Regions from separate parts of the Homo sapiens genome. Here region 1 is linked to region 2. The links come from fine-mapping of genetic effects on gene expression. A gene starts in region 2. The other region holds a variant in brackets. All regions are shown on one strand. Distances are from middle to middle.

What was found. PIP is the estimated chance that this variant, and not a neighbour inherited with it, causes the effect.
Region 1: its variant is the best candidate, but not a certain one, in a credible set for the expression of ETV5 in whole blood (TOPMed, PIP 0.68).

The regions. Positions count from the first base shown.
Region 1 is chr3:186,150,458-186,153,360 of GRCh38, forward strand. The region is part of intron 24 of DGKG (diacylglycerol kinase gamma); the gene reads right to left. Among named protein-coding and RNA genes, the nearest start is that of ETV5, 43 kb to the left of the region's middle. The variant T/C (reference allele first, on the strand shown) is at 1,194.
Region 2 is chr3:186,107,857-186,110,759 of GRCh38, forward strand. It overlaps ETV5 (ETS variant transcription factor 5), which reads right to left and starts at 1,233. Exons shown (of 13, transcript NM_004454.3): 1 at 1,084-1,233. RefSeq lists enhancers at 1-15, 774-1,752 and silencers at 786-885, 916-1,545.

The DNA.
Region 1 (2,903 bases), 43 kb after region 2:
GTATTCACAGACTCTCAGAATGTCACAGCCAGAGGAGACCTCAGGGACTCAATCGACCCCTCTGCAGGAGCCCATTAGAGTAGCCTAAGTTCACAAACAGAGCAGCAGCACAATTAGAGCCCAGTTCTTCAGATTCCCAGCCTCCATTGCTCCTGGTCATTCCTGCCAAGGCAGTGCTGAGATGTCAATCAAGTGACCGAGGCTTTGGTCTGACCTCTGACCAAGCACCATTATGTGGAGAGTTCCCAATTGAGTGCCTTATGTATTTCCTCTTTTCTTGGCCTTCGAGGGAAGACCCCAAATTCTTTTTAAAACTTTTTTTTCTTTAAATTTTAGGGTTTATAAGTGTTTCCTCCTGTAAACTTTAAGTCAATCAGAAGTGAAAGACACTGATGTATTCTCATTTTTGCCTTTATTCCCAACCTTATCCTCAGGTCATGGCTTTGAAATAGTTAATTCCTACCTGAGTGTGGCCTTGCCACCTTAATAATCTACATTATCCATCCACAATATTTATTAAGTATGATAATGCTCAGAGTAGGACGATGAAGTGGGAACAGGAAGCAATTAGAATTCAAAGACCTGGGTTTGAGTCCAGACACTTCCACTTCTTTGCTGTGAACATTTAGATGAATCATTGACTCTTCAGAGCCAGTGCTTACTGAACTGTAAATGAGGAGGATAACATTTGTCTTATTTTCCTCACAAAGATCAAAGAATAGATTGTCAATGAAAGCCCACTGTAAACTGTAAAATGGAAAGTAACAGTTAGTAAAATCCTTGTCTTATGGAGAAAGAGAAGGAGAAAGATGGATGTCAAAAGAAACAGAACCTATGAACTCATTCTTGTGGTTTTTACCACATTATAGGAAATGACAGTGTGACCGCAGGGAACAACAGAACTCTTGAACACAGAACCATCAACGAGTTTAAATCAATGTCGGCTAAACCAAGTGGTGTCCAAAACAAGGTGGGCATGGAATGAGAAAAGTCTGATGGGAACAAGGAGGAAAGAATTTTAAAATCTGAAGGAAGGAAAGGAAATGTGTTGATGAAAAGGGAGTGGGTAGAGAAGTCACAGATGAGCAGGTTGAGTTCAGGGCAAACTATGAGAAATGTGGTCATGGACACAGGTGGGGCAGCTGGTGTGGGGTTTTAAAGGGAGGCAGAAAGACTGGGTTCACATGAAGAAA[T/C]GAGGAAGCATGAGAGATGGCATTCTGTGCTGGAGAATAACATGACACAAAAGAAAAGAGTTTGAGGGAAATTATTTAACAGCTGTTGTCAAGGTGAGCTGGGGTAGTGAGTGCCTGGCTAAGAGGGCACTACTGTAAGCCAGGTTTACATTGAAAGGGCTCCAGGAACTGTAATCCCAGCACTTCGGGAGGCTGAGATGGGCGGATCACTTGAGCCCAGGAGTTTGAGACCAGCCTGGCCAACATGGTGAAACCCCGTTTGTACTAAAAATACAGAAATTAGTTGGAGGTGGTGGCAGGCACCTGTAATCCCAGCTACGTGGGAGGCTGAGGTAGGAGAATCACTTGAACCCGGGAGGCGGAGGTTGTGGTGAGCCAAGATTGCACCACTGCACTCCAGCCTGTGCGACAGAGAGAGACTCCATCTCAAAAAAATAAAATAAAAATAAAGGGCTCCAGGAAATGGAAGGGAAGGATAGAACCAGAAGACACTGTGGACAATTAGCATAACCTGGTGCTAAAAGCTGAAAATGATCCTTATGTTGGCTTCCACCAGCCCAGAGACCTAAAAGGGGAGAGAGTCTCTGTTTTTTGATAGTCACCAGAGGAGAAAACCGAGAATGCATCAACATCATTTTGTGCTGTGTGTCTTATTGTGGGCATTATGTTTATCCCAGGACGCACGGAAGCGAGGCATAGGCTGGAGACTGGAGACTCGGACAGCACTTATCTGTGGCATGCAATGTAGCATTCTTTGTTCCCCTGTGGAACACGTTTGTGGCATGTTCCCCTGTGGTCAGCCTTCTCTCACTCCTGATCTCCCATGCCCATGAGGGGAAGGACTTCAGCTTATTCACCACGGCACTCTCTGAGCCAGTGCAGTGCCTGTTCAGGGTACAACACACTGTGGAAGTACTGACTGATAAGCCCTACGTGCTGGCAGTGGAGATGGCTCTGTTGGAAGCAGAGGATGGTAGCTGGTGCCTACATTTCCCGCTGGTAGAGCCCCTCCCCCACATTTTTTTATTTTTGAGACAGAGTCTCGCTCTATCACCCAGGCTGGAGTGCAGTGATGCAATCTCGGCTCACTGCAACCTCCACCTCCCAGGTTCAAGCGATTCTTCTGCCTCAGCCTCCTGAGTAGCTGGGACTACAGGTGCTTATCACCATGCCTGGCTAATTTTTTTATTTTTAGTAGAGACGGGGTTTCACCATGTTGGCCAGGATGGTCTCGATCTCCTGACCTCATGATCCGCCCGTGTCGGCCTCCCAAAGTGCTGGGATTACAGGCACCAGCTGCCGCGCCCGGCCTTTTTTTTTTTTTTTTTTTTATTTAGATGACACAAGACCCTTGCTTCTCTTTTTTATCCCTTTAGCTGAGCTATTTATTTGCTAGTTAGTACCTCCAGGGCACGGAAGAGGAAGTAAAACTCAAATCTCTCCTGCTTGTTTTTCAGCGGTTCTGACAAAGGTCTTGACAGGGTAGGAGTCTGGGGCTCCTGGGTAACATAATATTTTGGTCAGCTTTGTGGATTCTATTACTATAGAACCGAAAGAAGTATGAAATCATATCCTCATTTCCAGTCAAAGAGATATCAGTCCCTTACCCTCAAATTAGGGGCTAGCAGGTAAAATAGTTATGATCCTATTTTAGGAGGTAGTTGGATGTGGCTAAGCCTGCCTTTTCAAACCCTGATAGAAAGAGGTCAT
Region 2 (2,903 bases):
CACCCAATTCTCAGCCTTCCCCATTCATGAAAACTCCTTCAGCTGCGCCCCCGCCCCCATTTCCAACGCACGCCCAGCCTCCGACGCAGGCCCCTCACCCCAGCGTTTTAGGAAGAAAGCTCAATGCTTCATTCACAAAAAGGGAAGAAAAAAAAAAAAGCCGCAGGGAGCAGCGAGCCAACGAAAGAAACCCGCTTCATTCATAAAGTCACCCACATTCATAAAAACGAGGTGCGGCGCCCGGCGCTACCAACCGCTTCCAATCCCCCCACCCCCAACATCTCTCCCTGGCACCCCCTCGTCGACCAGGAGTTCGGTTCCCCCCCGAGTTTTCTCCACCCTCTGAAAATGCGGCCGGAACCCTAATCCGCTGCGAGGCTGCAGCATCTTTCGGTGCTGTCCCCTCCACACCCGTGTTATCCCCACCATCCCCAGGCCGCTGTTCCGGTGCGCCCCGATTTTCTCGAGTCGCCGCACAGCCGGACGCCCTCAGCCTGCTGGGTGGGAGCAGGGCGACTGGATGTCCACTTTCCACCACCTGAAACTTGCAAGGCCTGCGTAAGTTCCTGGTCGACCCCCGCCCCCGCAGGCTGCACTTGCCTGTGTCATTTACCCCCTCCCGGTGCTCTGGGGGGCAGCGCCTCTCAGACATTCCCCTCAAACTGCTTCCCGCCCCCTCCTCCCAACTGCGGAGCTCCGCCAAGCGTCTCTTCTCGCGAGCCTCCAAGTCCCCTCGGGGCTCTCGAATCTCCAGAGACTGTGAAAGCCTCGCAACTCCGCGATCCCCCATCCACTCGGGAGCCCCCGCACTCGCGCTCCGGGGCGCCTCCCCCACGACGTGTGGAAAGCCGCTCTCCCCGCGCTCCGGAACCGTTAGCCGCACCCGCCCGACGCCTCCCAGGAACCAAACCGGACCGGGCCGCGGGGGGAGGGGGCGGTCAACCCGGGGGGGGTCACCCCAGCTACTGCACCCCGACTTTGAAGATTCTGAATCAGCCCGTGAACTCTAGCCGGCTGGGCCTGTCGGACCAGTGGCCGGACGCCCCTTCCGATCTCCCCCCTGCCCCCGCAAAGCCCCCTCACCTGAGGCGGCCTCTCTCCTCCCCTTGCAGCGGCCCCGGCGGCGCAGGCGCGCTCACGCACGCGCGCAGCGGGCCTGGGCGCCTGGGCGAAAGGCTGGGCCGAACCGCTCCGAAGACGGTGAACCGCTCCGCGCACCAGCGGCTGGACTCTGCGCCGCAGCTGCCAACCAGGCTGGAGCGCTGGCCCGGCCCCCCGCGGCTCGCTGCTCCGCCCGCCGCCATTGGCCCGCGGCCCTAGCCCAGCCTTGTTCCCATTGGCCAGAGGCCGTTCCCGCGGCTGTCCATCACCTCTTGTTTACCCTGTCTGCGGGCAAATCCAACCAAGCCGCCCCATCAACTCCGGCCCCCATTGGCCAGCGGTGCATCTCTCTCCACCCCCTCAGGGGTCTGTTTTACATAATTTATGCACCGGGGGCCATTGGCCAATCAGCACAGGCTTGTTTATATAATGAATGTAAGGACGTTTTTCATTCATAAAAAACGCGACCTGAGGGGGAAGCTTAGCTGAGTCAGTGAAGCACTTAAAGGGGCCGAGGCCAGGAGGAGCCGCCGTTACTTCCCTTCTCGCCGCTCTCCCGACTTTTCACCGAGGCACGACTCTTCCCCCTTACCCACTCACCCCCACTTCTCCATCCAGCAAAGCCCCGACCAGAATTGGGTCTCTTGGCGCCAGACGTTCGCAGCTGCAGCACCAAGCAAAGTTATCATTTTAGAATTCAGGGGAGAGGAATTCGTCATTCCACACAAACTCGCTGACCGACCTGGGCGTTTAGCCCACAGAAACACAGAAAACGGAAACCGAGCCCTCTAATCTTAGTTACCTTTAAGAGAGGCCTTAATTTCTTTTAACCAGGTTTCCAGTGGGAAGAATAAGCAGCATCTCCTTTTAAAATCTCAGCTCTCAAACAGATTTTTGTTACTATTTTGTACTGGCAAGGCCTAAGACCCAACCAAATCCCGTTTTCTCTTTAACTGCGGCTCGTAACCTCCGCCAGAGTGGGTTCTGTAGTCGAGGTGAGACAGGGTTCGGGCTCAAAGAAATCCTCTCCGGGGACAGCAGCAGCCAGTCCACCGACCTGGAAACCTAAATCCCTCCGAAACGGGCATGCAGACTCAGACTTTTTGCCTCCCTCCCCGGGCTGCTTGTTTTCCATTTAAGTATTGAATGCAAGATGGTGTATTTGCGAATTAGATCCCGTGCAGCTGGGAACGACGAGAAGCGGCTCTGCTTGCCAAACGATAGGGCACTAACTGCAATTGCTGAGATTCTTAACAGGGTGTTCCAGGAAACAAATAAACAAACAATCCTCTCCCCTCTCCGCCCCCTTACCCCCTCCTGTGAAGGCCGTGGGGCGGCTCTATCTTCTCTCCGGGGATGCTGGGGGCCTGTGACGGAGCTCTGTTCTCGTCCTGCTGGAGTGCCCTGCCATTCACGCCGCGTGCCAGCGGTGGGGAGGAAAGATGCTAAGTGACAGGAGAGAGCCCCTAGCAATGGGGGTCCCACGGTGGCCAACTCTGGGGCAGTTCCTGCCCCTGCCACCCCCACACTTAAGTCAAAGGTTCTTTCCTATCTCCACTTGTGTCTCTTAAACAGAGCGGACACTTGGTCTGTCGTTTATAGCCCTTGAAATGTTGGCGTGCCCCTAAGCAACCTGCAGCACCCGTGTTGAGTCCTGGGCTCAGCACTGACCAGGCACGCTGGAGCTGTTGACTTTGGAAGACTGAAATGGGCATGAGTTGATGGATGGAAAGTACTCTGAACATGTAACAAGCAGTTCCTTGAGATCTAGTTTCCTGGTAGAACATTTTGCTTCCGACTCC